4 linked regions of the Homo sapiens genome follow. The protein of the gene in region 1 interacts with the protein of each later gene in a biochemical or structural test. Each region holds a gene or a part of one and is shown on either strand. Other genes may lie near its edges. The genes, in order: FZD7, DVL1, SDCBP and CCDC88C.

The links.
Region 2: the proteins of FZD7 (region 1) and DVL1 form a complex in vitro, tested with the Homo sapiens proteins (2 studies listed by BioGRID and IntAct, with this or other methods).
Region 3: the proteins of FZD7 (region 1) and SDCBP interact in a biophysical measurement, tested with the Homo sapiens proteins (2 studies listed by IntAct, with this or other methods).
Region 4: the proteins of FZD7 (region 1) and CCDC88C form a complex in vitro, tested with the Homo sapiens proteins (one study listed by BioGRID).

What each region holds. Positions count from the first base shown.
Region 1 is NC_000002.12:202,028,700-202,036,854, reverse strand, and holds the start of FZD7 (frizzled-7 precursor), read right to left. Parts: upstream 3,001-8,155; 5' UTR 2,208-3,000; coding exon 483-2,207; 3' UTR 1-482. UniProt on the Homo sapiens protein: Receptor for Wnt proteins.
Region 2 is NC_000001.11:1,345,824-1,354,009, reverse strand, and holds the start of DVL1 (segment polarity protein dishevelled homolog DVL-1), read left to right. Parts: upstream 1-4,591; 5' UTR 4,592-4,944; coding exon 4,945-5,114; intron 5,115-8,186. Other genes in the region: MXRA8 (matrix remodeling-associated protein 8 isoform 1 precursor), read left to right, coding at 64-162, 678-709. UniProt on the Homo sapiens protein: Participates in Wnt signaling by binding to the cytoplasmic C-terminus of frizzled family members and transducing the Wnt signal to down-stream effectors. Plays a role both in canonical and non-canonical Wnt signaling.
Region 3 is NC_000008.11:58,555,666-58,563,260, reverse strand, and holds part of SDCBP (syntenin-1), read right to left. Parts: intron 2,978-7,595; exon of another isoform or gene 1,514-2,977; coding exon of another isoform or gene 1,466-1,513; intron 1-1,465. UniProt on the Homo sapiens protein: Multifunctional adapter protein involved in diverse array of functions including trafficking of transmembrane proteins, neuro and immunomodulation, exosome biogenesis, and tumorigenesis.
Region 4 is NC_000014.9:91,414,226-91,421,990, reverse strand, and holds the start of CCDC88C (protein Daple), read left to right. Parts: upstream 1-4,170; 5' UTR 4,171-4,300; coding exon 4,301-4,360; intron 4,361-4,388; exon of another isoform or gene 4,389-4,612; intron 4,613-5,152; coding exon 5,153-5,253; intron 5,254-7,765. UniProt on the Homo sapiens protein: Required for activation of guanine nucleotide-binding proteins (G-proteins) during non-canonical Wnt signaling. Binds to ligand-activated Wnt receptor FZD7, displacing DVL1 from the FZD7 receptor and leading to inhibition of canonical Wnt signaling.

The sequences.
Region 1 (8,155 bases):
GCTTGACAAGCACACCGCAGGAGGCCCTCCCTCTTTCCAACAAAGCAGCCACCGCAGACAGGGCTGTACCTTTCCCGGGGCCTCACAGGGGTCTGGACAGGCCACTCGCCCTGCAGCAGGGGGATCGCTCACAGTCCCCGTTCAGCCTCGGAGCCGGGAGAAACTCACAGCAGTCTCTGCTGGTCTCAACCTTCTATTAGGCACAAGCTGGCCCGTACCTTTGACGATTCACATCGCCGTTATCATCATCTTCCTGCAAGTCTTTGCCTGAAATCTTTTCATCCAAACCGCTTTCCACCCAGGTCTTCTTTTCCAAATCACCCCTCGCCCCAAATCTGCAAAGAACTTCTCACTTCCAGGTCACTTCTCAGTAGAGGGGGAGAAAGTTACAGAAACAGGCCCCCACCCAGCAGTTCTTTTCCCTACCGTGCCTCTCCTCTTGCAAGAGGGCTGGGGTGGGAAAGGTGGGGAGGGGCCGGGGCTCATACCGCAGTCTCCCCCTTGCTGCTGTGGCTAAGTCTGTGGTAGAAGCGGCGCCACGACTGCAGGGTCTTGCCCGACCAGATCCAGAAGCCAGTGGTGATGCCGACGATCATGGTCATCAGGTACTTGATCATGAAGACGGTGAAGTCGGGGCTCATGGGCGGGAAGTGGCCGGGCGGGCAGGGCACGGCATAGCTCTTGCACGTCTGCAGGAGCCAGGTGCGCTCCCAGTGCTCGCGGAAGGCCTGCTCGTAGAAGTAGCAGGCCAGGACGATGGTGGCGGGCACTGTGTAGAGCACGCTGAAGACGCCGATGCGCACCATGAGCTTCTCCAGCTTCTCGGTCTTGGTGCCGTCGTGTTTCATGATGGTGCGGATACGGAAGAGGGACACGAAGCCGGCCAGCAAGAAGGACGTGCCTATGAAGAGGTAGACGAACAGAGGCGCCAGCACGAAGCCCCGCAGCGCGTCCACACTGGAGAGGCCAACGTAGCACACCCCGCTCAGCAGGTCCCCGTCTACCTGGCCCATGGCCAGGATAGTGATGGTCTTGACGGCGGGCACGGCCCACGCGGCCAGGTGGAAGTACTGCGAGTTGGCCTCGATGGCCTCGTGGCCCCACTTCATGCCGGCCGCCAGGAACCAAGTGAGAGACAGAATGACCCACCAGATGGAGCTGGCCATGCCGAAGAAGTAGAGCACCATGAAGAGGATGGTGCAGCCCTCCTTCTTGGTGCCCTGCGCCACCGTGCGGTAGCCATCGTCCGAGAAGCGCTCCACGCACACGGCGCGGTCCTCTAGAAGGAAGCCGGCCACGTGCGCCACGGCCACCATGAAGTAGCAGCCCGACAGGAAGATGATGGGCCGCTCTGGGTAGCTGAAGCGCCGCATGTCCACCAGGTAGGTGAGAACGGTAAAGAGCGTCGAGGCGCAGCACAGCACGGACCACACGCCCACCCAGAGGCGGGCGAAGCGCCTCTCCTCCTCCTTAAAGTACATCAGGCCGTTGGCACGGCCCGGTTCGCACGGGGCGCCACAATCGCGCTCACCCAGGAAGCGGTAGCCCAGGTACGGGGGCACCTTGAGCTGACGGGGGCATGAGAAGGGGAAGGCGGGACGCCCCCTGCCATCTGAGGCCCCCGGGGGCAGCGCGGTGAAGGGCAGGTCCGGCAGGTAGGGCGCGGTAGGGTAGGCAGTGGGGCCGCCGCCTGGGCCCCCGGAGCCGTCCGACGTGTTCTGGCCCACGCAGATCTCGCCCGCACCGTGCACCGGGAAGTTCTCGCAGCGCAGCCGCTCGGGCCACTGGAAGCCGAACTTGTTCATGAGCGCCTCGCAGCCCTGGCGGGCGCGCTCGCACAGAGAACGACACGGCGGGATGGCCTGATCGAGCACGGTGCACACGGGCGCATACATGGAGCATAAGAAAAAGCGGAGTTCGGGAGAACACTGCACCTTCACCAGCGGGTAGAACTGGTGCACCTCGAGGCCCGCGTCCTCTTGGTTCGTGTGGCCCAGCAGGTTGGGCAGGATGGTCTGGTTGTAGGCGATGTCCGTGCACAGCGGGATGGAGATGGGCTGGCAGAAGCCGTGGTCCGGCACGGAGATGCCCTTCTCTCCGTGGTACGGCTGCGCCCCGGCGCCCGCGGACAGTGCGCCCAGCAGCGCCAGCACCAGGGCACAGAGGCCCAGGGACGAAAGCGGAGCGGCCGCGCCGGGGTCCCGCATCGCCGGCCGCGAGTGCAGCGGTGCTCTCAGCCTGAGGAGTGCGACGAGGCGGTTGGGAGAGGCTTGGATGCGGGGAGGCGCCGCCGCGCCCGACGCATGAGAGTCCTCACGGCGCCGGGGCCGGGCCGTGGGCGGCGTGGAGCAAAGGGCGCTGCCGCCTGGGTGCCCGCGCCGCGAAGGCGCCGCAGACGCCGCCGCCCTGCACTCGCAGGGCCGCCGGGGGCCCAAAACTCGTCAGCCTGGGTTGGGGGCGCCGAGGAGGGCCGCCTCGCTCTCCCCGCGGGGACGTAACGGTGCGGCTCCCTCCGCCGCGAGGAGCAACAAGCGGCTCCGGCACCCTTCAAAGTTTGCCCAAGACTCTGGACCCCCGGCGCACCGCAGCGCGCACGCCCCCCGCGCCTGGTCCGGTCCCCGCTAGGAGAACCCCTGCCGCCGCCGCTCGCTCGCCCCGGCCGCCGCCTCCGCGGTGCTGCCCCGCCTCCTGGCCTCGAGGCTCCGCTCGTCGCCGCCTCCTTCGCCTCCTCCTCCACACCCCGCTCCTTCTTCAGCCCCAAAAGCTCGGCCCCAAGTTTCAGCCAAACGGCCGGCTCTTGCTGAGTCCGATCTCGGCCCCGGAGTCGGGAGCACGGCGAGTTCTTTTTGGAAACCCAGTCACACTGCGTCCGAAACCGCGAGGCGCTCGTGCCCGCGGCCTGGCCCCGGCCCCTCCAGCCCCTCGCAGCCCCAGCAGCGAGTCCTGGCGCCCGCCGCCGCCGCCGCCGCCGCCGCCCGCCGGGAGTGAGCGCCGACTAACGCCTCGGAGTCGCGCTGGTCGCCAGAAGAAGCGTCGGGCTCGCGGGGTTCCGGGCCGGCCCGCCCCCTCCCGTCCCCTCCCGTCCCCTCCCCTCCCCTCCCCTCCCCCCCCATTCACAAACCACTCCGGGGGCGGCCCCAGGCCCCGGCGGCCCAATGGCGGCCTTTGTTTTTTCGGTGGCCGCCTTCGGATTGGGCGGAAGTCGGAAGGGGCGGGCGCGGGAGTGGCGGAGGCGGTGTCCGCGGCGCTCTGGGCGGATTCCTGAGGGGAGGGGCGGGGGACTGGGAGGGAAAAGTTCGGAAAAACTTTTACCCTGAATTCGCTCAGGGACGAAAACGCGCAGAAAGGGAATTTGCTTCAAAGATTTGTTCCTCTTCCTGGTGCACTCAGATGCGCATTCCTGAGCAGGGGCGCCTTCGCCAGCGGCGTTTGAGGGGAGCGAGGACCGCGCAGCGCCCCTTCGGGGAGAGACGTGACCAGGAGTCGCGTTAGGACTGCAAAGGCTGGCTCTGGCGGGGCTTTCGGGTCGCCGGGTCCTCAATGTGGGGTTTGGGACGGGACGAGAAGGGGGTGCGCCTTGCGGATCGCCTCTTTCCCCCCGGACCCAAAGAGTCCACGCGAGGCCACAGTCCCCTCTCCCCTCCCCCGAGTTATAAAAAGGAGGAGGGGCCGCCTCCGAGGAGAAACCCGAGTCGGGCGGAGGGGGCCGAGTGACGGCGGGAGGAAGGACCCCTCGGAGGAAGGGCCCGAAGCAGGGAGAGCGGGGAACCCGGGCTCAGGCCACCCCGCCCGCGCGCACGGCCTGGAGTCTGGGGAACTGGGGTGACTCTAGCGAGGTTTTAAGGAAACGAAGACGGCGTTGGGGAGACTGGTTCTAGAAGTAACCTGAGACCGAGCGCCCAGGAACACTCTGTACGACGCGCCGGGCGTCTCAGTGGCCCCGTGTGCCTTGGTTCTGCGGCGTGTGCCCTTTCGGGATCCCATCTTCGTTGCAGAAGCAACCATTTGATCCTCCATTTAGAATCTGCGTAGGAATGTTTTAATGCGTCTTAGAAACCAGGCTAATTAAAGAGTTTTCAAAACACAAAGCGGGGTTATCCTCGTTCTCGGGTAGCGTTTTCTGATTGGCAAACGTTCTTTTGTTCTCGGTTAAATCTTCGTCTTGAGCCAGGCGCTGGGCGCTCGCGCGCGCTCTCTGGTTACTCCTGCGGGGGTCATAAGTCACCAGGGGGCCTCTCCCCTCTCTCCGGGCTGCCAGGAATATCAGGAATTCCCATGCAGGAAAGTGACATGTTGAGAAGGAAAAGAAAAAAATCAATCAATCAATCTCTCCTCCTCCTCCTCTTTCCTCTGTCTCTCTCTCTCTCTCTCTCACACACACACACACACACACACACACACAGCAATCCTGTGCTTTAAAAAACGTTATTCCTGGCGGAGCCCTTCTGCCTCAGTCCCGGGTGCTGGAGCTCTGAGCGATTTCTGATCAGGTTGAACCTTGGCAGAAGTTGCTGTCTCTGCTGCCTCCCGTGCGCTTCTTCTACAGCAGGAAAAAAACTCATTCTGAAATCGAAGACAATTAATTGGGTTCCCTTCCATGGGAGACTTTGGCTTTCTCTGTTTTTCTTTATTTATTTTCGATCACTGAAGATTGCTGGGAATCGTTCTTTCCGATTCACGGTTCTTTGTCCTTCCCCACTCCTGTTAATAGGTCGAAAGGGCGGAAGGAAGCCTTTGGGCCAAGGCAGAGTGTTAGACTGATCACATCCTCCATCCGGCCCTCAGCGGGAGTCGCCTTCTTCCTCCCAAGCATCAGTTTCGCCCTCCCTCCCGGACCCCCCCACCCTTTTTTTCCTTTTCTTTGGGACATGTGCTGAAGGTAATACGATACCTGCTTTAAAAATGTTTCATTCCTTCTTTGTGTTTTTAAAAGGGCCCCCCTTTTCTTTCTAAATTATTATTTCTATTACCTAACATCGGGGAGTGTTGATCTTCGGTTGAAATATGTTGCTTAAAGACAATGCTGCTGCTTTGCTTTGTCATTTAAAGTATGTGTGGTGGGGGGTTAGATTCCTTTTTTCTCTCCATGAGCTTCAGGATATCCTCCTTTTCTAAATCAAAATTTCATGCTTATTCATCAGGCCACTGATCTAAGTCATCTTTGCTTATTGAGGAAGAAATACCAAGCACTGTCATCAAATAAAATGAAAACTGACAGGATAAAATACTGTCTCAACTGCAACTAAAACCAATTTAGCTGATGAGCTTCTACTCTCCATATTATAACCCCAGACAGCTCCGATGTTAGGCAATAGGGATAATAATTTAGAAAAAAAAAACCCTTAAATACAAGGGACGAATGAAAAGCAGTCTATGCCTAAGATGCAGAAAACCCATCCCAGATGGAAAGTGTTACAGATGTGAGTCCTCTTGCTCTGTCCCAGGCAGACAAGTCCAAAAAGCAGAGAAGCAAAGCCAATTTTTAAAACAGATTGTTTTGTTTTTAAAGATTTTTAAAAAATCAATCCAAAATTATTCTCCAAAATAAGAATTTGCTGTGAGAGGGGGAGCTCTGGCTTTCCAAGCCTTGCCTGGTATAGAATGCTATGATTTTAAGGAGCCAAGTCATAGAAGATCAGAAAAAGTAAGTTCACAATGTAAGGGTCTAATCATGTTTTAGGTTCTATGACAAATGTAGTGACATCTGTTTATATTCTGTCCAGGATCATTTTAATTTTGCTTCCTAAGCAACCCCTTCCACACCCAACTCCCAAAGCCACTAACTGGTATCTTCTTGGGAGAGCCAAGGGTGGAAAATTTTGTGACTATCTGCTGCAAAATTTCCAATTGTCCCTGCCCTTTAAAATAACAAAGGCCTTTATTTCTTCACATGTAGTCATATGGTCCCACAGAAAAGTGATGCTATTCATTGGCTCCAGTTTTGCAAATGCTACTTATTTTGGCCAAGTCCCAGGTTTATCTAGTTGAATTACATTCTGATGTCAGGCCAGATTTGAAAATGGCCGTCTTCGTGTGCCCCAGTCCTGCGGTTGTAATGAAGCTCCTGCTGCAAGAATTACTCATGCAAGACTAGAAAGGGCAAATTTTAGCACATGCTTTCCTTTCTGGCCTCTCTTTTACTAGACAATTTTGACGTAATAACATGGAGAACTTGGAATTTCCAGTTGTCAGGTTGTCATTGACTTGTGTTCATTTTTGTTGGGGTGTTGGATCATTCCAAAAATGGGGATATTCTTATCCCTAAAACCCTTTCAAGGGTTATGAAAGTTAGAGATATCTAAGTTGCAGAAGAGGAGGACCATGCAATAATCATGTTAGATGTGCAGGCCGCATCTTGTAGAGATGATTTATATGGTAAATTCAGTCACTGAGTCTGACCAACACTTCCCTTGTCGATTGAGAGGGGTTTTTGTGTTTCTGTTTTTGTTTTTTGAGACAGAATCTCACCCTGCCACTCAGGCTGGAGTGAGGTAGAGTGATCATAGCTCACTGCAGCCTCGAACTCCTGGTCTTAAGTGATCCTTCTACCTCAGCTTCCAGAAAAGCTGGGACTACAGGTGAGCGTCACCACACTGGGCTAGTTGAGAGTTTTATACGTTGACTATTGTATAATCAGGGTGTTGATCAGGGCTGTGATGGCCTCAAGGCTCAATTGGAGGAGCCACTTCCAAGCTCACTCATGTGGCTGTTGGCAGGCCTCAGGCTGTCACTAGCTGTTGGCCAGAGACATCAGTTCCTTGCAATGTGGACCTCTCATAAGGCCACTCGTAATATGGCACCTTGCTTCCCTCACAGCAAAGGCTCAGAGAGTCTCTCCCTCTGAGAGAGGGAGGGAAAGAAGGAGGGAGAGAGAGAGAGCAGGAAAAAATGACGATCAAGATAGAAGTCACAGTCTTTCTGTAACCTAATCTGGGAAGTGACATCCTACCACTTTTGCCATATACTATTCACTAGAAGCAAGTCACCAGATCTTCCCACACTCAAGGGGTAGCAGGGATTATACATAGAGTGTGCAAAACCATTGGGGGATCATAGGGAGCCATTTGAGAGGCTGCTTACTACAAGGATTATTCATTTATTCATTTCCAGAGTATTATGAAGATGAGGCAACAGAGAGAAACGACTCTTGGAGCTCTGTCCTTGGGGAGTCCAGAGAAAGGGTCACAGATAAAAATACAGTGTTGACTGGTTATGTTGCCACTTGCAGATGTTAGAGTCAGAACAGAACCCTAACTCTGGCCAACCAGTTTTCCAAACACATGTCCCTGGGAGAGAAAACATGGAGGAAGTTGATTAATAAAAGACCATGAACAGTTCTGGAAAAAATGTCCAAATGTAGAGCGCTGGCCATTCTGGGGAGTCAAATCTGTACTCAAAGGTCAGAGCATATGGACCATAGTCTGTAGAAAGCGACTTCGGGTATCTGGGTTATGATGTAAAAAGCACCTTTGGTAATTGCTACCCATGTCTCCAATGTGGGTCTGCACAGTACTGATGTCTAGGAAGGATTGCAGAGGTGGTTGATACAGACTGGTTTAGTTCTGCCTTTCACTATTGATTTCTTGTCCTGCCTCAGGCAAGTCACTTAACATCTCTTGCTCCCCCAGGATGTTGGGAGAATTTGTGAGGTAATATTTACGAAATGCTGTGTGATCCATAGGCAAAAAATCATCAGGGCAGAATCCTGGTCTAGTTATATGGATACAAATCTTAGGGATCAAATAAAAGGCCAAGTTAGCTGCATATTTTGGGGCTTTGGCTCTTTGCTGAGGTTGTAATTTTTTTTTTTTTTTTTTTTTTGAGACAGAGTCTTGCTCTTTCGCCCAGGCTGGAGTGCAGTGGCGCGATCTCTGCTCACTGCAAGCTCCGCCTCCCGGGTTCACGCCATTCTCCTGCCTCAGCCTCCCAAGTAGCTGGGATTACAGGTGCCCGCCACCACGCCCGGCTAATTTTTTGTATTTTCAGTAGAGACGGGGTTTCACCGTGTTAGCCAGGATGGTCTCGATCTCCTGACCTCGTGATCCGCCTGCCTCGGCCTCCCAAAGTGCTGGGATTACAGGCGTGAGCCACCGCGCCCGGCCGAGGTTGTAATTTTTTATAGTGGTATGCTGGTAAATGTTTAACAATCGACTCT
Region 2 (8,186 bases), on another chromosome or scaffold:
GAGGGCACAGGCGCGGCTCCCAGTCCCGGGCTGGGAAGTGCATCCTGGGAGCGGGGACCTCAGCCTCCTCTCCTCCCACAGATTACAAAAACAACATCCTGAAGGAGAGGGCGGAGCTGGCCCACAGCCCCCTGCCTGCCAAGTACATCGACCTAGACAAAGGTGAGCGGCGGGGGCGACCTCAGCCCATCTCAGAGCCCTGCCTGTCCCCATTCCACCTCACCTGGGACCAACGATGGCAGGCACCAGCCAGGCCCGGGGCCCCTGCCACCTCAGGCTCAGAAATCCCTGGGGAGTCCTGCGGGGGGGTCTGCCCTGTGTCTCCCACTGTGATGAGGGTGGAGGACAGCCGCCAACCCGTTGGCGCCCTTGGCTTCCAGGGTTCCGGAAGGAGAACTGCAAATAGGGAGGCCCTGGGCTCCTGGCTGGGCCAGCAGCTGCACCTCTCCTGTCTGTGCTCCTCGGGGCATCTCCTGATGCTCCGGGGCTCACCCCCCTTCCAGCGGCTGGTCCCGCTTTCCTGGAATTTGGCCTGGGCGTATGCAGAGGCCGCCTCCACACCCCTCTCCCAGGGGCTTGGTGGCAGCATAGCCCCCACCCCTGCGGCCTTTGCTCACGGGTGGCCCTGCCCACCCCTGGCACAACCAAAATCCCACTGATGCCCATCATGCCCTCAGACCCTTCTGGGCTCTGCCCGCTGGGGGCCTGAAGACATTCCTGGAGGACACTCCCATCAGAACCTGGCAGCCCCAAAACTGGGGTCAGCCTCAGGGCAGGAGTCCCACTCCTCCAGGGCTCTGCTCGTCGGGGGCTGGGAGATGTTCCTGGAGGAGGACACTCCCATCAGAACTTGGCAGCCTTGAAGTTGGGGTCAGCCTCGGCAGGAGTCCCACTCCTCCTGGGGTGCTGCCTGCCACCGAGAGCTCCCCCACCTGTACCACCATGTGGGACTCCAGGCACCATCTGTTCTCCCCAGGGACCTGCTGACTTGAATGCCAGCCCTTGCTCCTCTGTGTTGCTTTGGGCCACCTGGGGCTGCACCCCTTGCCCTTTCTCTGCCCCATCCCTACCCTAGCCTTGCTCTCAGCCACCTTGATAGTCACTGGGCTCCCTGTGACTTCTGACCCTGACACCCCTCCCTTGGACTCTGCCTGGGCTGGAGTCTAGGGCTGGGGCTACATTTGGCTTCTGTACTGGCTGAGGACAGGGGAGGGAGTGAAGTTGGTTTGGGGTGGCCTGTGTTGCCACTCTCAGCACCCCACATTTGCATCTGCTGGTGGACCTGCCACCATCACAATAAAGTCCCCATCTGATTTTTAGACTTGTCCCAGGTATGCTTCTGAAACTCCGTCTCCTGGGGCTGGGCAAGGCATGAGTCTGGGCCTGGGAGTCCTCGTCTCCACCTGGAACCCCTGACATCATCCCATTCCTTGGGCTGAAAGGTCTGGGTCTGGGTCCTCTGGGAGTCGGTGTCCTGGGAAGGGGACCTTTGAGCTAGTTCTGTGTGGCTTCTGGTCGTGGAGGAGTTCAGATTCCCTTGAGGGCTGACCTGGACGTGAGGAGGGGGGACGTGGTGGTGGCTGTGAGGCCAGAGGGAAGGCCGTGGGAGCACAGCTCTTGGAGAGGCAGAGGGACGAGGAGCGGGAGTAGTGGGATGCGGGTCAGACACTTGCAAAGGGGGCGGGAGCAAAGAGGCTCCAGCAGAGACAGCCCGGGACAGCAGGGTGGTTCCAAGAGTCTTGGCCAGGCCAGCACGGATCTGGCCCTAGAATCCTTTCCCGCTCAGGCATCAGCTGGTTGGGTGCAGGATCTCAGCACAAGTTCAGGCGGTGGGAGGAGTGGCGGGAGCAGGAAGGCCCGTGGCCCGGGGTCCTGGCAGCACAGACCAGCGACTAACTGCTGCTTCTTGAAGCTGGCGTCACCACCCAACCCCATCCTCCAGTCCTCCCAGGACAGTGGGGGTGGGAAAGGGTGACAGTTGCCCACAAGGACCCCACACAAGCATGGATGGGGAGGGAGGGAGGCTGGTCTGGGGAGGTGTGGCTTGAAGATGCACCCCCCTCCCAGCCCGGTTACCTCTGGCCTCACCAGTGGCCACACCTGTCAGGGCCCCAGCTGGACCACATCCGCGTCAGCAACGGGACTGGCCTCAGGCCTCTGGCTTCCAGCCTCTCTTGAGACCTAGCCTGGGGTCAGGCCCTCAGGGCAGGGACAGGCTTCCTCCCTCCCTGGGGCCTCAACAGATAGCCCCTCTTAGGTCTTCCTGCCTGGCTTCTGACCTCTGGGGAAGAGAAGGGCTGCGGGAAGGTGGAGGGGGCTGGCGGCTAAGCTGTCCGGGCTTGGCTGAGCAAACGCCACAGTTCTCCCTCTCAGAGCCCGGGTGCAGGGTCAGGATCCCAGGCCCAAGCTGACCGTCAAGCACTGGTGCCTGCACTGATCGGTTTCTTTCCGAGCCGGTGCAGCCCCCAGCACGGTCAGGGCCCGATAGATGCCAGTTCCATCTCGCCGGCTTCCTGGGGACGGGAACCAAGGGACCCCACCGCACTCTCTTCCCCATCGCTCCAGCCCCGTCCAGGCCCCCTCCTCACTCCCCCCGTCGCTCCTGCCCCGTCCAGGCCCCCTCCTCACTCCCCCCGTCGCTCCTGCCCCGTCCAGGCCCCCTCCTCACTCCCCCCGTCGCTCCTGCCCCGTCCAGGCCCCCTCCTCACTCCCCCCGTCGCTCCTGCCCGGTCCAGGCCCCCTCCTCACTCCCCCCGTCGCTCCTGCCCCGTCCAGGCCCCCTCCTCACTCCCCCCGTCGCTCCTGCCCCGTCCAGGCCCCCTCCTCACTCCCCCCGTCGCTCCAGCCCCGTCCAGGCCCCCTCCTCACTCCCCCCGTCGCTCCTGCCCCGTCCAGGCCCCCTCCTCACTCCCCCCGTCGCTCCTGCCCCGTCCAGGCCCCCTCCTCACTCCCCCCGTCGCTCCTGCCCGGTCCAGGCCCCCTCCTCACTCCCCCCGTCGCTCCTGCCCGGTCCAGGCCCCCTCCTCACTCCCCCCGTCGCTCCTGCCCCGTCCAGGCCCCCTCCTCACTCCCCCCGTCGCTCCTGCCCCGTCCAGGCCCCCTCCTCACTCCCCCCGTCGCTCCTGCCCCGTCCAGGCCCCCTCCTCACTCCCCCCGTCGCTCCTGCCCCGTCCAGGCCCCCTCCTCACTCCCCCCGTCGCTCCTGCCCGGTCCAGGCCCCCTCCTCACTCCCCCCGTCGCTCCTGCCCCGTCCAGGCCCCCTCCTCACTCCCCCCGTCGCTCCTGCCCCGTCCAGGCCCCCTCCTCACTCCCCCCGTCGCTCCTGCCCCGTCCAGGCCCCCTCCTCACTCCCCCCGTCGCTCCTGCCCCGTCCAGGCCCCCTCCTCACTCCCCCCGTCGCTCCTGCCCCGTCCAGGCCCCCTCCTCACTCCCCCCGTCGCTCCTGCCCCGTCCAGGCCCCCTCCTCACTCCCCCCGTCGCTCCTGCCCCGTCCAGGCCCCCTCCTCACTCCCCCCGTCGCTCCTGCCCCGTCCAGGCCCCCTCCTCACTCCCCCCGTCGCTCCTGCCCGGTCCAGGCCCCCTCCTCACTCCCCCCGTCGCTCCTGCCCGGTCCAGGCCCCCTCCTCACTCCCCCCGTCGCTCCAGCCCCGTCCAGGCCCCCTCCTCACTCCCCCCGTCGCTCCTGCCCCGTCCAGGCCCCCTCCTCACTCCCCCCGTCGCTCCTGCCCCGTCCAGGCCCCCTCCTCACTCCCCCCGTCGCTCCTGCCCCGTCCAGGCCCCCTCCTCACTCCCCCCGTCGCTCCTGCCCCGTCCAGGCCCCCTCCTCACTCCCCCCGTCGCTCCTGCCCCGTCCAGGCCCCCTCCTCACTCCCCCCGTCGCTCCTGCCCCGTCCAGGCCCCCTCCTCACTCCCCCCGTCGCTCCTGCCCCGTCCAGGCCCCCTCCTCACTCCCCCCGTCGCTCCTGCCCCGTCCAGGCCCCCTCCTCACTCCCCCCGTCGCTCCTGCCCCGTCCAGGCCCCCTCCTCACTCCTCCCATCCTGGGCCGCCCTCTAGTGGCCTCCGCGCTTCCTGCTGGGGTCGGGTCGGGAAGGCCTCCAGCCCCGCGAGCCCCGGAACAGTAAGCGCGGACGCCCCGCGGCCTCAAGGGACGCCTCGGAAGTCTCCCCTGCCCTGCGGAGAACCCCAGGACTAAATCCCTCCCGCCGCCGGGCGCTCCGACGCCTCCGTGCACGCCCGCGCCCCCGCGCGCCCCGCATCCGCTCGGCCTGCTGCCTGGACCCCGTGGGACCCGGCAGAGGGCACGCGAGTCGGGAGCCTTCGCGGTGGCGCAGAGCGACCGGGCGCCACCTCAGCGCCGCGCACCCGGCGTCCCCGGGGTCCCTCCGCCCGACCCGAGCGCCCCGGCGCCCACGGGCCCACAGCCAGCGGCGCGCGTCGCATGCGCCGGATCATAATGGAGCGCGGGCCCGCGCGCGGGGGCGGGGCCGGGGCGGGGCGGGGCGAGCGATGATCGCCTGCGTCTGCGCATCCTCGCCCCGCCCCCGCCGTGCGCCCCCGTGACGTCAACGCCGCGCGCTCGGGCGCCCCCCCGCGGCCACGCTCAGGACCCCGGGCCGGGCGGTCCCTTTAACGGCGCGGCCCGAGGGGCGCAGGCGGGAGGGCGGCGGGGCTGAGCGCGCCCTCCGTGCTGCGTCCCTCGCGCCGCTCCCGGGCCGGGGGCGGATGGGCGGCCGCGGGCCGCGGGGCAGCAGTCGGGACGCGCGCGGGAGCCGGGGGCGGCGGCCGGGGCCTGGGCGGTCGGGCGGGGGCGCCCGGGGGCCTCGGAGCGTCGGGGCCGAGAGCGGTGCGGGCCGGGCGGGGCGCAGGCGGGCGGGCGGGTAGCGCCCCGCGTCCGAGCCCCGGGCCGGGCCCTGAGCGCGCGGGCTCCGCGCCGCCGCCGCGCCATGGCGGAGACCAAGATTATCTACCACATGGACGAGGAGGAGACGCCGTACCTGGTCAAGCTGCCCGTGGCCCCCGAGCGCGTCACGCTGGCCGACTTCAAGAACGTGCTCAGCAACCGGCCCGTGCACGCCTACAAATTCTTCTTTAAGTCCATGGACCAGGACTTCGGGTCAGTCGGCCGCGAGGCCTGCGCGAGCCTGGCGCGGGCTCGGGGGTCGCACCTGCCCGCGCGGGGACGGGGCGGGGGTCCTGAGCCGTTCGCGCCCCCGGGGACCTGCGACCGCGACGCGCCTCCGCTAGATGCGGCGCGGGTGGCGGCCTCGGCCCGTGTGCGGCGCGCGCCCACCTGTCCGTGGAGCGGGGCGATGGCAGGCGGGGTTCCCGGCGTCCCTGGCCCCAGCTTCCCGGCCCCGAGTCCTGCCTTGGCCCGTGTCAGACTCGGTCGGCCGCATCGCTTCCACCGGGGCTGGCCGGGAGCGCCTGCCGTTGGTGCGGGCTGGGGTCAGGGGCGTGTCAGTGGGAAGGAAGCAGGGTGGGGTTCCCTAGCTGGGATGGGGAGACATGGGGGTACAGGTTCACCAACCTGTCTGCTAGGGTTTGCAGAAGCTTCCCGAGGGTCAAGACAGGTTCTCCTGGCCCCCTTCTGCAGGGTCCTTGTGACAGGGTGGAGGTCAAGGGCCACTGGTGACCATGAAACTTTATTCGCCTACCCGTGTCCTGAGCTTCCTGTGGGCCCCGTCCCCACTGAGCCACAAAGCACTTGCGTTCCCGGAGCAGCCCAGACCATCTGCTGTTTCGGGGCAGCCTGGGTCAGCGTCTCCCTGCTGGGCCTCGGTGGTGGTGTCCCAGGCGAGGAGACCCCTGCTGTGCTGAGCTGGGCCCTCTGGGACAGGGAGCAGGAGCCTGGCGGTCTGCTTGAGGCCTGGCCTGGCCCGGCCCAGCCACCAGTAACCTGAGTCCCTAGTCCCAGCTCAACAGTGCTGGGGGCGGGCTCAGGCCTCGTGGCCCCAGGAGGTGAGCCTCCGGCAAGCGGTGTCCTTGTGTGTGGCCGCTTCTTGGGATTGTGACATTAAGGTTGTTTCTTGGATTCTGTGGTTGCAGGGTCCTCAGGCAGCCCCAGGTCCAGTCAGGCTGGGTCCGCTCTGGAGCTCTCAGGGGGGCCCAAGGGACATCTAGACAGCTGTACTTTCCTTCCCCACCCCCACGACCAGGCAAAGCAGAGAGGGCAGGGTGCGTCCTTGGCAGCCTTTGAAGGCTGGGCGCTCCCCACTCGGCTCAGCGGCCCTCCTGCCCGCTCCGGTCAGGTTGGGCAGGAGGGGGCGGTTTGTTTTCTGAGTCTGGTCCGGGCTCCTCCCCAGCTGGGGCACCTTGCAGTCCCTGCTTCTCTGGGCCTGGGCTGCTTTGGCCTTGAGCATGGGGCATGTGTCAGGTACTTTTGTTTTTGACTTAGTTTATTATTCTAACGAAAGTTACCAAAGTTACTAATGCTGTTTGTTGCAAATGTGTGCCACCAGGAAATGCGTAGTGAGGAGGTGCCCAGCCCCCAGGTTCTGCTCCTGGACCATGCTCTGGGATGAAGCCCTGGGGGAGTCCGCCTTCTGCTCCTGACACCCACCGGGGGCTGCCCAGGGCAGAGACAGCCTGACTGTTGCCCTAGTGCACTTCTAGCAGTGGCTGCACCTGCTGGGCACATTTGGAGGACGCGTGGGTGCCCGGGCCTGGGAACAGGGTGGGCAGGTCTGGGTGTCGAGGCAGGCTTGGGGATGCGGCCAGGAAAGAGACAGGGGAGCTTCAGTGTACAGCTTTGGAGGCTGCAGACTTACAGGGGGCTGGGAGTCAGTGGGGCTGCAGAGGTCAGGGCTGGGCTGGGCTGGGCTGTGGGGGTTGGAAAGAATGGACTGGGGTGATGCTGGAGGTCCAAGACGAGGGCCTTGCTCTGTAGCCTCCCAGGTCCTCTGGCTGGGATGGGGGCCTTGCTCTGTGTCCTCCCTGGTCCTCTGGCTGGTGGCCTCAGGAGCCTACGGAGGACCCTCATCAATTACTTCCTTCATCCCTTCCCCTGAGTTCTACCCGCAGACCTCTCAGCACTGTCTGTTCTGTGGAATAGAACCCCCGTGGGAGGGGCTGGTTGGTCAGTAATACTTTAGCTTAAGCGACTGCTGAACTAGACACTGACCCTGGATGCCAAGCGAATGTAGTTGGAGATGGGGGGAAGAGAAGGCAGGTCCTCGCTGGTCTGGGGTGGCCTTCATAAGAGAGGGAGCTTCAGGCTGGGGACGCTGAGGAGGCCCTGGTGAGTCGGGGGTTCCTGCGCCAGCCCCCGCTGCATTCTCAGCCCAGCCCTGGTTCCCCAGCCTCTGCTCCAGAGCATGACTGACCACCTTGCAGTGCAGGGAGCCTGTGTCATGGCCACAACCACGTGCCCTGGTCTGGACCCCACTCCCCACGCACGGCTTTGGCCCAGTGGGTGAAGGTCCCCCGCCTGTCCTCCACTTTTCATGCCCTGGTCACAGCTATTCTGACCCAAGATCCCCAGGGCTGGGAGGAGGGCAGAATTGGGGAGGGTCTCTGCCTGGTGCTGGGTTTGGTGGTTGGCAGGGGGTCTCGCCCAGCCTTGGGCCGAGGCAGAGGAGGGAGGGTGTTTGGCTCCGGGTCCCCACTGCTGGGTGCGTGGCGGATGCTGGGCCTGCTGGACTTGGCACCGAGGCTGTCTGTTGGGCACAGCTCCCACAGTTCATCTCCGAGGTGGGGGTGACCCAGGCCTGGGACTGGGGGATGGGTGGAGGCAAGGCTGTGGGCCCAAAGCCCTGGTCCCCAGGGCCGCCTGCCATGGGCCTCGGTGTTGTGACAGCTCCTTGTGTCCTGGGTGGTGCTGTGGGGAGCTATGGAGTTGGGGAGGCTCTGCCTGGCCTGGGCTGTGGGGGGAGTTCCCACTCCGCCCTCCCTGGCTGTGCCACTTGGGGTCTGTGACTCAGCCTCTCTGTGCCCTGAGTGCCTCCCTGGTTTTGGGAGGGTCCAGGCAGTTCACCTACTGCACTCATAGCCATGGCCTAGCAGGGACACTTGAGCCTGTGTGTCCTGAACCGGGGGAGGGGCACAGAGAGATCCCAGGACTCGGCACCACCCAGGGGACAGGCTGGTGGAGAGCCCCTGGCTCTGGGGTCAGGGGTTGGGAGGCCACAGACCCCCAAGGCTGAGGGCCCTGACCTGGGGCGTGCACAGGGGGCTCTGAGGGCACAGG
Region 3 (7,595 bases), on another chromosome or scaffold:
TTCATTTTCATAGCAGAATAATATTCCATTGTATGTATACCACATTATATTTATGCTGTCATCAGCTGATGACATTTGGGTTATTTGCACTTTTGGCTATTATAAATAATGCTGTTAAAAATGCCAATGAGCATTTGCATTGTTAGCAAATAATATGTAAGTTTATATACTTTTTTAATAAATGCATCTTTAATTCTCTTGGAATATAGCTAAGCATGCAACTGCTGGGTCATATGGTAACTCTAATACCATCCCCTTGATGATTACAGGATTCAACATATGAATGGAGGGACACAGTCACAAACATTCAGACCATATCATAGACCACTATCATATATGATTTACAAATACTTTTCTTATTCTGTAGATTGTCTTTTCATTTTTTCTCACAGTGCATTTTGCAATATGAGGTTTTTAATTCTGACAAATTTGAATCTATATTTCTTCTTGGTTGCTTATGCTTTAGATATAACATCTAAGAAACTACTGCCCAACTCAAGGTTATGAAGACTTACCCTTATGTTTTCTTCAAAAAATGTTATGTCTTTAATTCCTGCATTTATATCTTTGATCTATTTTATGTTAATTTTGTACACGGTGTGTGGTATAGATCCATATTCATTATTATCCATGTGGAAACCCAGTTATTTCAGCACCATTTTTTGAAAATAACATTTTTGAATTGTCTTCGCATCGTTATTGAAAAGTGATCATAACTGTATGCACTTATTTCTGCAATCTCAATTCTATTTCACTGATCTATATGTCTATCCTTATACCAGTACCACACATTCTTGAGTACTGTACATTTGTATTAAGTTTTAAAATCAGTTAATGTGAATCCTCCCACTTTGTTCTTTTTCGAAATTGTTTTGGCTATTCTAAATCCCTATCAATTCAGTATCAGTTTTAGAATCAGTATATCCATTTCTGTAAAAAAATAAAAAGTATCCTTAAATCTGAAGTGAGTCTCTTATAAACTGGGTATAGCTGGCTCTTGGTTTTATTTTTTTAATCCATTCATCCCCTCTATGTCTTTTGATTGGAGAGTTTAGTACATTTAAAGTTATTACTGATAGGGAAGGACTTACAATGACATTTTGTTAATGATTTTCTATCTTGAAACTTTTTTGTCCTTCCTTTCCTCTCTTGCCATCATGCTTTTTGTTTCACTGTTTTTTTTTTTAATAGATATGCTTTGATTCCTTATTTGTGTGTGTGTATTTTCTATAGGTATTTTCTTTGTGGTTACCATGGAGTTTACATAAAACATCTTCTAATAAACCTATTTTAAGCTGATAATTTCAACTGCATACAATACTGCTTCTTCTCATCCATCCCCATACTGCATTACTGATGCTACAAATTTCATCTTTTATGTTGTGCATCTATTAATATTTTTATAGTTACAGGCACTTAAACTTTTGTCTTAGACTTATATATCAGAAATAAGTGATTTACTCACCACCATTACAATAATATGCAGGTCTCTATTTGTCCATAGCTTTATCATTTAATTTTATACTTTCATGTTGAACATACTTTTGTTTCCATTTAACAGACTCCCATTGGCGTTTAAGTCAGATATAGTGGTGATGAACTCTCTCAGATTTTGAGAATCTTATTTCTCTTTTACTTTTAAAGAAAAGTTTTGCCACATACAGTACTTTGCTGGCAGTTTTTCTTCCAGCAGTTTGACTATATCATCCCACTTCTTTCTGACCTGCAAGGTTTCTGCTAAGAAATCCACTTAGAGTCCCACAGAATCTCCTTTGTATATGACAAGTTGTTCTTATCCTGCTGCTTTCAAAATTCTTTGACAATTTGATTACAGTGTGTTTCCATGTAGATGTCTTCGGATTGTTCTACTCTGGAGTCCATTTGGCTTCTTGAATCTGGATGTCCACTGCCTTCCTTCAGTTTGGGAAGTTTTGGCCAGTATTTCTTCAAATAAGCTTTTTGCTCCTTTCTCTTTCCAACATATGGAACTTCCATACAATCTACATTGATAAAATTGATGCTGTCCCATTAGTACTCTAGGCTGTCTTCATTCTTTTTTTATTTTTTTTCTTTTTGCTTCTCTGACTGGATAATTTCAAATGACCTGGCTTCAAGTTCACTAATTCTTCTCCTTGAAAAACACTGCTGCTAAACTCCTCTAGTAAATCTTTCAATTTGGTCAAAGAAGCATATTGCATCTGTTACAATGTTTGTTTGGTTCCTTTTTACGTTTTCAATCTCTATGTTGATACCATTTTGTTCATGCAGCATTTTCCTTGGGTCACTGAACATGTTTATGGTGGTTAGTCTGAATTCCTTCTGAGATAATGAAGATATCTGTGTTTCCTTAAAGTAGGTTCCTGGATATTTTGACTCTTTGATTGTGCCATGTTTCCCTATTTCTTTGTGTGTCTTTTAACATCATGTTGGGATCCAAGCATTTGAAAAAATATCACCCCTCCCAGTCTTTGTGGTCTGGCTCTGTACAGAGAAAGATCCTCACTGATCGGCCTGACTAGAGATTCTGCATGCCTTTTGAACCTTTCCTGAGGATGCTTCTTCTCGACCAGTGTGTATAAATTCTCAAGATGAACTTGTTCGTTTCCTTTTTCAGGATCTCATAATCTTTTGCTCCCTGTGCTATCTGTCTGTGGTACTTCAGGTTCTCTGGAGCTGCTGCAAGCCACCCAGCTCTCTTGTTTTCAGAGGCCTCCAACCTGGTGCCCTTTCCCATCAGTGGGCTTTTAGAGTATGTCCACTCCTGCCTGTGCTCCAAGTCAGGTGAAACAGAAGCCAGTCCCTTGGGGGTAGCTCTCTGAAGTGCTGGAATGTTGGACACATACTCCACTATTCTCTCTCCAACACCTTTCATGCCACACGTAGGGACAAGCTGCTGAGCTGTATCATCCTCTGTCTGCCCTACCATAGGTCCTCTAGAGCAGCAACAAGTCTTCTGTTCTCAGTGGCTCCTGGGCACCTGGAATACACCAGCCCCTGTCAGCTTTCCAAGACAAGCAAGACAGAAGCCAGTCCCTCAGCCCACTGAAAAGGTGAAACACTGGACACACATTCCAACTCTTTTGTCTCCCCAAGGAGAAGCCAAGAGTTGAGGATTTTCTCCTGCTGGTTTCATGCTGAGGGAGGGGGAGGGACCATGGTGAGTGCCTGCTAATCTAAACTGTCAACTTTGTTTTCAATGACCCCGCAACCTGGTGCCCTTTCCTGTCAGAACTTATATTCAAGCAAAATAAAAACCAGACCCTTGGGCAGACCTCTGAAAAATCTGAATGTCACACAGATGTTTCAGTCTTCTCTTTCCCCGCCCAGGGAAAAACCAGGAGCCTGGAGTTTCCTCTTGCTCATGCCATGCTGAGCCAGGGGAATGAACTATGGTGAGCAAGTAGGATGAATTTTCCTACCATCTTCACTGCAGCTGGTTTACTGCTCACCTAGAATGCAGGAGCCTCTTAACTAGTTTCCGGATTTCTCACAAAGAGGTCTGGTGTGTGTATTGTTATTGAATCAGTATTTCTGTGGGGAGAAGAAGCATATGAGCTTTCTATTGCACCTTCTTGCTGCTATTACACATCTTTTGTTTCTTTTCTAATTTCTCTGGCTATAATCTCCAGTACAATGGTGAATAGTAGTGGCCTGGTACAGTCCTTAAGGGAAAAACAGAATCTGGGTTTGTGAGAAAAAAAAAAAAATTCACATTCTTGAGAGAGCACTATCAAATATGATTTAATTGTATTAATCCAGGAGAACAAAGTGAATTATCTTCTTTGGGTTCAAAGGATCAATTTCCTAGCAGCCTTTCCCTAAACACAATTTTTTGCCTTATTTAAACTTTCAGCCATTCTATCAATATAAACAAAATGCATATGATATATAATATACAAAATGCAAAGCAAGTTGCAATATCAACAACCAAAATGCACTGAAAAGAATGTTACCTGGCCATCTAATATTATTTCTATTTTTGATTTCTTTTTTTGATTCTGTCATTGGCTAACTTCAAAATCCCACTGTTCTCATGAAAAATGAAGTGGTTTCCTAACTTTTCTCTCCATAGAAGTTTCTCTTCAAATAAATATTAACTGAAGTTGTCTGAACAACTCTTGAGTTAATTCACACACCAGCAACTCAAGCCTAGAAGAAAAATGGACTTTCAAAATTTTTTTTAAATAACAAATATTACCGTAATTTACACTTCTGAAAAAGTAAGTTTCAGGTTTGCTTTAAGTGTACTGATCTTAATTAACTCTCACTGTTTTTTAAATCACAAAGCATTCCTCAATTTTACTTTCTTGACCCATTTCATTAAATTTCTTTCCACGTATTAAAATGTTGTAGCTGCAAACCACTGACTATTTGCCACCCAGGTCACATGCTTCCATGCCTGCATATTTTTGTAAAAGGTGCATTCTCTTCCAGGAATGTCCTTCCAGGACTTCTCCACCAATCAAAATCCTAGTTAGCCTTGAGGCATAGGTCAAGTGTCACTTCTTAAAAGAGGGTGACTTTGAAGGCTTCAGTTGGATATTATTTGCTCCTCCCAACTCCTCTCAACTCTGCCTCAGATTATAGCTAGTACATGTTTATCTCCACTACTTGAAGGCAGGACTCAATTTAGTTTATTTACACAGCATAAACACTTTTTCCTCATCCTCAAAGATATCAAATGTAGCTGGGCGCAGTGCCTGTAATCCCAACAGTTTGGGAGAAAAAGGTAGGTGGATCACTTGAGCCCAGGAGTTTGCGACCAGCTTGGGCAACATGGAGAAACCCCATCTCTACAAAAAATATAAAAAACTAGCCAGGGACAGCAGCACATGCCTGTAGTCCTAGCTACTTGGGAGGCTGAGGTAGGAGGACCACTTGAGCAAAGGAGGTTGAGGCTGCAGTGAGCTGTGGTCACACCACCACATTCTAACCTGGGTGGACAGACTGAGACCCTGTCTCACCAATAAAAAAAACTTTTTAAAAAGAAGATACCAAATGTTAGTATTTTGACAAATGTCATCAAAACAACAGTAAATAAGATATCTTTAAACACTTATTGAAAAGATCAAAATATTCTTAGGGCAAGTCCGTACTTTTGAACCTAACAGTGTAAAAAGCCTTCCAGGAAAATGATAAATGCTTTATTTTTCTGAAGGGCTCCATTAAGTCACTTGTACATTATATTTAAATCTTTGACCTAATGGGAACTGTTAGAAACACAGCCCTTTTTCAAGAACCACAAAGCTAACTCTGGGAAATCCTTCTAATTGTGGCTGGAATTTTATAATGACCAATAATGAGGTTTAAGAGGATTCTGAAAGTAACTATTACATCAGTGGAAGAATCTCATTTTACCTCACTTGCAACTCTTATCAAACATTATTATTGTACGAACTAAACTAAAGAATTTTGTTTCTAGGCTTTCCTTCGAGCTGAGTAATCACTAAGAAGATAAAACTCCCACTACTCTTTAAGGGTTTGATCAAACCTTCCTGACCACTACAGCTTTTTTCCACTGGCCTAATTCCTTGGAAAGAAATGGTACTGCCCACATACCCTTTGACCAGGTTTGGCCCACACTACATTATTTGCAATCTCTGTGACTCACTTCATGCATTATGAAAGGCCCCTACACCCAATGTATCTCAGGCCTCAGAAGTAACTCACAAATAGTTTCTATTAAGAGATCTTTCAGTGGGTGGGATAGTTTCGGACTTTTTCAGAACACCAAAAGGCTATATATATATTATATATGTGTGTGTGTGCATATGTATTATATATAACATATATAATATGTATTATATAATATGTATTATATGTATTATATATAATATATATTATATTACATTATATTATTATATTTTAAATATAAATATTTTTATATTTATATATTTTTATATATCTATATATTTTATATATTTATATTTATATATTTTATATTTATATATAATTAAATATAAATATCTAAATATAAATATTTTAAATATAAATATTTAAATATAAATATTGATTAAAATTAATATCATTTTCCTGGAATATATAAATAATATAATATTAATATATAATAATACTATATTATATTATAATATACATTATAATTATATATTATAATATTGTATATAATATATACTATATTGTATATAATAGTATAATATATAATATATGGTATAAATTATACTATACTATACTATATAATATAGTATATAATAAGTATATCTTATATACTTATAATATAGTATATAAGATATAGTATAATAGTATGATATACAATATATATTATGTTATATATAATATATAAATCATTATATATTATTCATAAATAATATATATTATATATAATTAGAATATATTATAATACGTATTATACGTATTATAATATATATGTATTATATATGTTATATATAATACATACATTTTATATATATATGTATTTATATATTGTCTGCCTCAGTACCAAGTTTCCCATTTGTCCCTCAACCCCCTCAGGGCAATATAAGAGTAACCTCCTTGAAGTCTTTAAATATGTGTACAGAACGAAGGCCCTCAACTTAAATACTTATGTGATATTTTGGAATTCTAGTTTATTCGCTCTCTGGACACAATATTCTGATTAATGAAGTAGGAAACACTGGCAAAGTTTTCCAAATAATATCACCTAGAATGGCAATACTCATCATTTTCTGAGTTATTAACCTCACCCCTTCTCAAACCACCAACTACAACTGGCCTCCCTTAAAAATGACATGTGACTGTTTAAGGTGAAATAATGTTTATTTGCTTCTTTTAATCTAAGCTATTAAAACAGGAGTTCCCAACCCCCGGGCCATGGACCAGTACCAGTCGGTGGCCCATTGGGAACCAGGCCACCCACAGCAGGTGAGTGGCAGGTGAGCCAGCATTACCACCTGAGCTCCAGCTCCTGTCAGATCAGTGGCAGCATTAGATTCTCACAGGAGCAGGAACCCTATTGTGAATTGTGCATGCAAGGGATCTAGGTTAAACGCTCCTCGTGATATAGTTTCATCCTGAAGCCATCCACCTATCCCGTCCGTGGAAAAACTGTCTTCCATGAAACCAGTCCCTGGTGCCAAAAATGTCGGGAACCGCTGTATTAAAAACATCTTGGGATAATAAAAATTTAGGACGGCAGAATCATTGATTTTTTTAAAAAATTATATGACAGTTGATAAGCAATTAGTTGAATTCGAAGATGTTGCCTATTTCAACTACTGATATCTTCAAAACCAGGAAAATTTGGAGTGATAATTTGTTGAAGCAGTTATTAAAATTTCTAGTAAAGTTGTGTTTCATTATGTCTTTAATTTCACTTCTGCAAACTATTCATAAAATGAATGAAAAATGTAAAAAATAAAATTATCAGGCCAGGAACCGTATGGCTCATGCCTGTAATCCTAGCACTTTCAGAGGCTGAGACAGGAGGACTGCTTCAGCCCAGGAGTTCAAGACCAGCCTGAGCAAGATTCCATCTCTAAAAAAAAAAAAAACTAAAAAATGAAAAAATAAAGTGTCCATTGGACCCAGATAGTAAGCATTCCAGATGGCTCATACATGAGGTCTAGAAACACAATTTA
Region 4 (7,765 bases), on another chromosome or scaffold:
AGACTCTGTCTCAAAAATAAATAAATAAATAAATAAATAAAGTAAATAAAAGAACGTTCCAAAATGTCAGATCTGTGACAGAATATAAAACTATCATAGAATATAGTATTTTGTGGCCAGCCATAGTGGCTCACACCTGTAATCTCAGCACTTTGTGAGGCCGAGGCGGGCAGATCACCTGAGGTCAGGAGTTTGAGAACCGCCTGGCCAACATGGCGAAACCTTGTCTCTACTAAAAATACAAAAATTAGCTCGGCATGGTAGTGAGCTGAGATAGCTTGACCCCTGGGAGACAGAGGTTGCAGTGAGCCAAGATTGCGCCACTGCACTCCAGCCTGGGTGACAGAGCAAGACTCAGTCTCGAAAAAAAAAAAAAATAGCCATTCCCTCTCCCCACCCCAAGTTGTAGTAACAATTTAAGCTCCTGCTCCTATCAGGTGAAGTAGAAATGCCATTAGCTAACACTGCTGAGTCAGTATTTTCTGAGAGGGTAGAAAATTCCTTTATCAGAAGAACACAAAATACTGCTTCTACCCAGGAAGCAATGTATTAAGCAATAGATACATTTATATCCAGAGATTAACAAGGAAAAACTTAAAAATAAAGAGTTAAGGCTCAGATGGATGGAGTGAAAGCCAAGGGTGTTCTGGAAGGATGGAGGAGGGGCATTGGGACTCTCTGTGTAGTGGTCAGTGGAGGGTCTGTGCATTTGCTCCTTGAAGCTTATGCCCCAGCCCGACGGAGACTTCGGGGAAACAATTTTTATTAAAGCAAGGGTAGCAGAATGGGGCAGGAGATGAGGAAGAGACAGTGATTATGTATCTCTATAAAGCTTTATGGCTTCCACAATCTTTTTACATGCATCACCTTGAGCTTTAATATTGTCTTGTCAAGTCACATGGGGAAAATGGTCTTATCTTGATTTTGCAGATTAAGTGACTTCTAGGAGGAAACTTGTCCAGGCCAAACTTGTCCCGTCCTTTGAAGCCTTCCAAGCTTGCTACACCTGGGGCACCATCCAGTTTGCCTGCCCCATTGCCTCCTAGGGAACAAGGGAGCTGAGTTAGATCCTTTTAATCCTGGTGGCGTAGTCAAGCCAAGGCATGGTAGCAGATACATCAATGATTATGAACCAACACAGCAGCTAACTGACCCCAAAGCAAACATTCCTGACATGGCTGTGGCCCAGGGCCTTGTCAATGTCCCCAGGGGAAAATTCCCTCACCAGGATGGGAAAAGTCTCACAACTGTCAGAAGGCATTTGTCCACTGTATTTCTTAGTGTGAAAGAATAAGCTTACTCAATAAATTTTTTTTTTTGAGACAGAGTCTTGCTCTGTCACCCAGGCTGGAGTGCAATGGTGCAATAGCAGCTCACTGCAACCTTCCCCTCCCGGGTTCGAGTGATTCTCAGCCTCCAGAGTAGCTGGGATCACAGGTGTGCACCACCACACCCAGCTAATTTTTCTATTTTTTTTGGCCAGGCTGGTCTTGAACTCTTGGGCTGAAGTGATCCACCTACTTAGGCCTCCCAAAGTGCTGGGATTACAGGTGTGAGGCACTGCACCCGGCCTCAATAAATAACTTTAAAGATTCCTCATCCTTGTCTTTCCAAAAAAATTGGAAAAACAACTTTGGCCGCATCTGCATCCCTTACTTTTCAGAAGAGAGGCTTCCGAGCGAAGAGCGGTGTGTGTACACATCATACCTATTTTTGAACTAACTTACATTATGAGCAATTAAGGAACTTTTTTAAATAAAAGATTTTTAGCCGGGCGCGGTGGCTCACGCCTGTAATCCCAGCACTTTGGGAGGCCGAGGCAGGCGGATCACGAGGTCAGGAGATAGAGACCATCCTGGCTAACACGGTGAAACCCCGTCTCTAGTAAAAAATACAAAAAATTAGCCGGGCGTGGTGGTGGGCGCCTGCAGTCCCAACTACTCTGGAGGCTGAGGCAGGAGAATGGCGCGAACCCGGGAGGCGGAGTTGCAGTGAGCAGAGAGCACGCCACTGCACTCCAGCCTGGGCAACAGAGTGAGACTCTGTTGTCTCAAAAAAAAAAAAAAAAAAAAAAAAGAGAAAAGAAAAAAAGATTTTTATTTCAGATAAAATTAATATTTCCATAATTAGGATACACACATAATTAGCAAACACACATTCTTGAGTCCATTATTTAAGGTTTATTCTATAAACGACTTCCATGAGTATTAGAGATCCTGAATGTCATCTGAATATTTGTCTACACACTTGTGGGCAGCTTCTGTAGACTTTTCTTTGTAGAAATTCCAGTTTTTCTGAATTCTTCCTTTTCCTTCAGGTTTTCCACTTTGCATTATTCATAAAAGGCTGGGTCATTATAGTGAGCTGTTAAGACATTCTTTCAATGCAGAATTTTCTTTCCAGCATTTTACTACCATAAGGATTCCAGAGTTCTTGCAACATTTGGTAAAATCTTGAACTTGTCAGAAGACCTCTCTCTGGCCTTTTCTCTCATTATTTTAGGGATCAAAACATCTTTTTCGACACGTCTGAGCTGCTGCTCCAAAAACCTGTAGTGTCTTCCCATTGTTTTTGGTATAAAAATCAAACTCCTTGAAATGGTTTACAGGACATTTCATGATTCACAACTGAAACTCCTCCACAGCGATGGCACACACTCCTCTTTGATCTCAATTCTTCTTTCTTGTGGTCTTTGCTTAAACCACTGTTCTTTAAATTTCACAGAGCAACCATCAGAGTTGTTAAATTAATCCGCGGGGTCGAGTGCCATCGCGGCGGGCGGAGAAGCAATTAAGGAACTTCTCTAATGAACTTCTGGTGCACAACAAAACCATGTAGTCTCGAAATTTTAGTTCCTCCGCAGTCCCCCATTGTGTTTTATGCTACCCCGCCTTCCACAGTCTCTAGGGACCCCTAACCGACCCCCTTGGCTCTCAGGCCATAATCTCACAACCCTCCCCAGCCCAACGGGGTCCGCCAGCGCTGGGCTGTAATACCACTCGCCACCAGCAGATGCCGCAGCCCCAACGCTGCACAGAGCCAACTTTCAAAATTACCACCGAGCCTGTCGGCAGCCATTTAGTGCCTGCTGTATACTTGCCAAGCGCCACGCAGGGCCCTTCGGGTCAACCCTGTACCAGTTGGCCCAGCTGCGAAATGCGGCGATCGTTAGGGTTAAATTAGTAAAATGGTCTACAGTGCTTTGAACAATGACCGGCTGGTGGTGTGAAATTATTACCAGGCCGAGACCAGCCTGGAGCCGGCTCCTGCCTCGTGCCGTCCCGCAAGGAGGTCCTGCCCCCGGGCTTGCCTTCCAGCCAGTTGGGGCCTTTGCCCTTTTTCCTGTCGCCTGCCACTAAGCTGCTGCTAGGAACCCCGGCTGGAATTTAGCTCGCCTCCGGCAAAGTGGTGGGGGCGGGCCCGGGTCGGGGAGGCCACATCACCTGCTTCCTGCAGGAACTTTTAGAAGGCAGGCAGCCCGGAACATGGCACGGTGGGGCACGGTAGGGCGCGAGGGGCCGCGCCCCTAAGGCCTAAACTCAACATAAAGTTTCTTCTTTGCCCTCCAGCCCAGCCCCAGGGTCGGGGCGCGTTTATCGCGCCGCGCACAAGCGTGAGGAGCGGGGGTTTGCGGGGCCTCTTGACTGTACCTGGGGCTGCACCTGCCAGGAGTGCGGAAAGGCGCAGGGCCGAGGTCCCCAAGCCCAGAGCGGGCGGCAGCTGCGGGCGACCTCGGAGGGCAGAGCAACCTCGGAGGGCAGGGCGTCCCCGCTCCCGGCACGCACCAGTGCCCGCGCACCCCAGCTCGCACGTGGCGCTCGGGCCCCGGCTGCACGCGCACGCGCGCAGGGATGCGCCACGTGCTGGGGCCCCACACGCGGGGAGGCTGCGCTCGGCGAGGGCGCGCGGTCCCACGGGCGGGGAGCCGGGCCCCGCGACCCACCCGCCTCGGGCCACCAGTCCCCTCCCAGCGCCCCGCGTAGCCTGGTCCCGCGCCCGGGCTCCCGGGCTCCCGGGCTGGCACCGCGAGGCGGCGCGCCGGTCGCCCAGGGCCGCCGAGGGGCGGGGCCGCCCGTATTGTTCCTCCCCGAGCGGCTGGCCCTCCCCTTCCCCCAGACCCGGGCGGGGCGCGGGGCCGCCGAAGCCGCGGAACGTGGGCTCGCGCGCCCCGCCTTTGTCTCCCGGGCGCGAGCCGCCGCAGCCCCGCGCCCGCTGCTCGCTGCGGAGCCGTTTTGTGCCGCGGCGCGGGGGAACGGGGACGCGGGGCGGGGGGCGCGGAGCCGGCGGGCGCAGCCTCAGCATGGACGTGACAGTCTCGGAGCTCCTGGAGCTCTTCCTGCAGAGCCCGCTGGTGACCTGGGTGAGTGCGCCTGGCTCCCCGCCCCTTTGTTGGTGCACCGGCTTCTCTCTAGCCCGGCGACGGGACGCCGCAGACCCGACACGGCCGGGGCCCCGGGTGGCTCCGGGGCGCGAGGGACGCAGCAAGTGGCTCCCGGCCGGGGTTGGGGCCGCGTCCTGGAGTCCGGAGCTTTGTAACTCTGGAGCCGGCGCCCCCGTTGTGCGTCCGGCGCGGGACCCCGCCGCGCTTTCGGCCGGGCCAGGAGCCGGGCGGGTACACCTGTTCCCGCTGGGGCTCTAGGCTGGCTGCCTCGGGGCGGACCGGGTCCCAGTGGTCACTCCTGTCCCTGGGGTTTAGCCACTCCCGAAAAGGACCCCATTCTTCCCAACCAAATATCTCATGTAGTTTTTCTGAATCCCTGAGACCAGCCGGTGGATGGCGGTGACGGGTGGGGAATGGGGGGCGCCGAATGGGAAAGCGAACAGACTGGGGTGGGCGCACTGATTTACAATGGATTTGAGACGTGAGACATTTATTGAAAAGTCCTTTTTATTTTTATTTCTTCCGCTCTGGAACGCGGGAGAAAAGTGGCGAGGAAGTTTTTCCTCCTGTCTCGTGTCTGTTGCCCCGCGCGGGGAGGGGAGACAGGCCCTAGGAGAAGGCCGGGCTTGGTGCCTGCTGAAGGGTGGTGTGGGCGTGGGTGACCCCCTTCTGCTCACACTGACCCGTCCAGTCTCTGCCTGGGAGAGCTTTGGACCGTTTGTGCGCACGGGGTGACTTCCTGTCTTTCTCTCCTCGTCCCCCTCCCCGCAGGTGAAAACTTTTGGCCCGTTTGGAAGCGGCAGCCAGGACAACCTGACTATGTACATGGATTTAGTGGACGGCATCTTTTTGAACCAAATTATGCTGCAAATGTAAGTTACCTTCTTCTCGGAGGAAGGAAAGAATGGTGCGTTAGAAAGTTTGAGAGTAGAAATGGAGTGGAAGGTTGCATGGCGGGGTGTGTGTGGGGTGGGGGGTAGTTCTCTGAAGGTGGAGACGCTGGTATCTCAGTATTAACGTGCCTGTTGGACATTCGTAGGTGTTTGAAGAACTCCAGGACAGTGGGTCTGGCAGTTGGTTTGATGAAGGAAATTTGGAATTGAATGACTGTCATTTACGTGGTGTAGATAGTGCAATTGACTTCAGACTCAAGGACTTAATTGTGGTTTGAGCAATGAAATGAAAAAGTCCCCTTTTGGAGGGCAAGGAACTGTAACGGAGAGTGTCTGGTTACAGGAAGTGTCGGGGTGGGCCCAGGCATCCGAGGGTTACTGTAAAGTTTCATTTTAGATGAGGGTGTCTGTGTTTCTGAGCTCCTTTACATTTCATCTTCCTTTTTCAGTTGCCCCAAAGCAAGTGCAATTCATTAAGTCCTACTGTATGGACTGAGTTTAAAGTCACAGTGTTAGGAGGGTCCCATGGTGCTGTTTGTTTGGAAGCATGCAGCCTGAACAGGGTCTTAGTAGAAGTTACTCTTGCCAGCGAGTACATCTGACCACATCCTTTCCTGTTGCTGAGCTCTGCACGGCCTGATTGACAGCTTGCCACAACGTAGGTGTTGGCTTCTACCTTTGCATTCTGTTTTTAACTCAAACTGCAGGGAACATTGGAACTGAGTGTCGGGATGATTCACAGGCACTTGAAGCAAAATAAAACATCCTAATGTTCTCTGTGGATCAGCCTCGTGTGCGCACCTATTCACCTACGACTGAGCAAGTTGTCATACTGGAGCATAAATCTATTAGCTAATGAGAGATCAGCTTCGTTTGTGGCTCACAAAGGCAGAGGAGCAGTTTGCTTTGGCATATCCAGAAAGTGGCTTATATAGATTGCCTTAAACAGCCTGTTTAGAAAAAAATAATTCAAGAACCTTGCTTTTTTTTTTTTTGGAGACGGAGTTTCGCTCTTGTTGCCCAGGCTGGAGTGCAATGGCGTGATCTCAGCTCACCACAACCTCCGCCTCCCGGGTTCAAGCGATTATCCTACCTCAGCCTCCCGAGTAGCTGGGATTGCAGGCATGCGCCACCACGCCCGGCTAATTTTGTATTTTTAGTAGAAATGGGGTTTCTCCATGTTAGGCTGGTCTCGAACTCCCGACCTCAGGTGATCCGCCTGCCTTGGCCTCCCAAAGTGCTGGGATTACAGGCATGAGCCACTGTGGTGCCCGGCCTCCTTTTATTTTAATAAGTCATTTGATGTCATGCTGTTTAATGGTTTTTGCTTTTTTTTTTTTAAAGTTCACAGCTGTGGGTGTAGGAAAAAAAGTCACTACCAATCTTACCAGTCTTCAGTGTCTGATTAGATTGAAAAACATAAATCTGTTGCCAGCTTTGACAGCACTTCTTAGATAACTTTGTTGAAACTGAGTTTTCCGGAAGCTGTCTCGTGGCATATTCGAGTTCTGGCCACTCTCCCCTCATTCTGTTAGACCCTGAAAATTACTGGATTCCATTGGCGCAATGACCGGTGAAACTTCAACCTGTCCTTACCCAAGCCCAAGACTGTTTAATTAAAAAAACCAGCAGTATCCCCAGCCTTTTCATTCAGCTCCTACACCCAGGCAGAGGGGGGAACAAAAGCACTGGGACTGTTTCTCTTTCTTCCCTGACCTTTGGAATTCCTGAAGCGTTTCCCACTTGCTTGTAAATCAGGAAAGCCTGTTGGACCGTTCCTTTGAGAAACGCCAGCTCATCACTTGTTCTCATTTGGCCCATGGCTAAATTCGGCCGGGGTGGTGTGGGGTGGGAGGGTTTCTCCCCTTCCCTGGGCAATTTTAGATGTTCTCTCTGTGATATGCCAAGGTAATCATTCCAGAAGTGGGAACTGGTAAATTGTAGCTCTTAAGACTTCAAGAAGTGCTTCTGGGTCCCTCAGGATGAGTTGGGCACAGAGGAATGGAGCGTGGGGAGGCTGAATGGCTGGCTTTCCAGAATGAGGAAAGAGAAGAGAGAGCGGGTGGGCATGGTTTCCTGCATGGGTCATCAGAATCACCCAGTTCCAGGTGATAGAAGTCAGAATAGTGTTTTTGTGTCTGGAAGTGGTGAGGATTGACTGGAAAGGACCCGGGGGAACCTTTTCAGGGTAGTTGAAATGTCCTGCAGAGTGGCTGGAGTATGTTTCATTTTCCAAAACTCCTCAAATTATAACTTTATGCATTTCATGCTATGTAAAATTACCTCAACTAAACAATGAACCCTGGCCTGTATCGGACAGCCTACATAGCCAGCTGGGATTCAAACCCTTGGCCTCCCTTTTACCAGCAGTGTGACACTGGGCATGTCGCTCAGTGCCTTAGTTTCCTCATCTGTAAAATGGGACGTAAAGTACCTTCCTTAAGAGATGGTTGTGAGGACAGAATGAAACCTTGTGTTAACATTTAGCTAT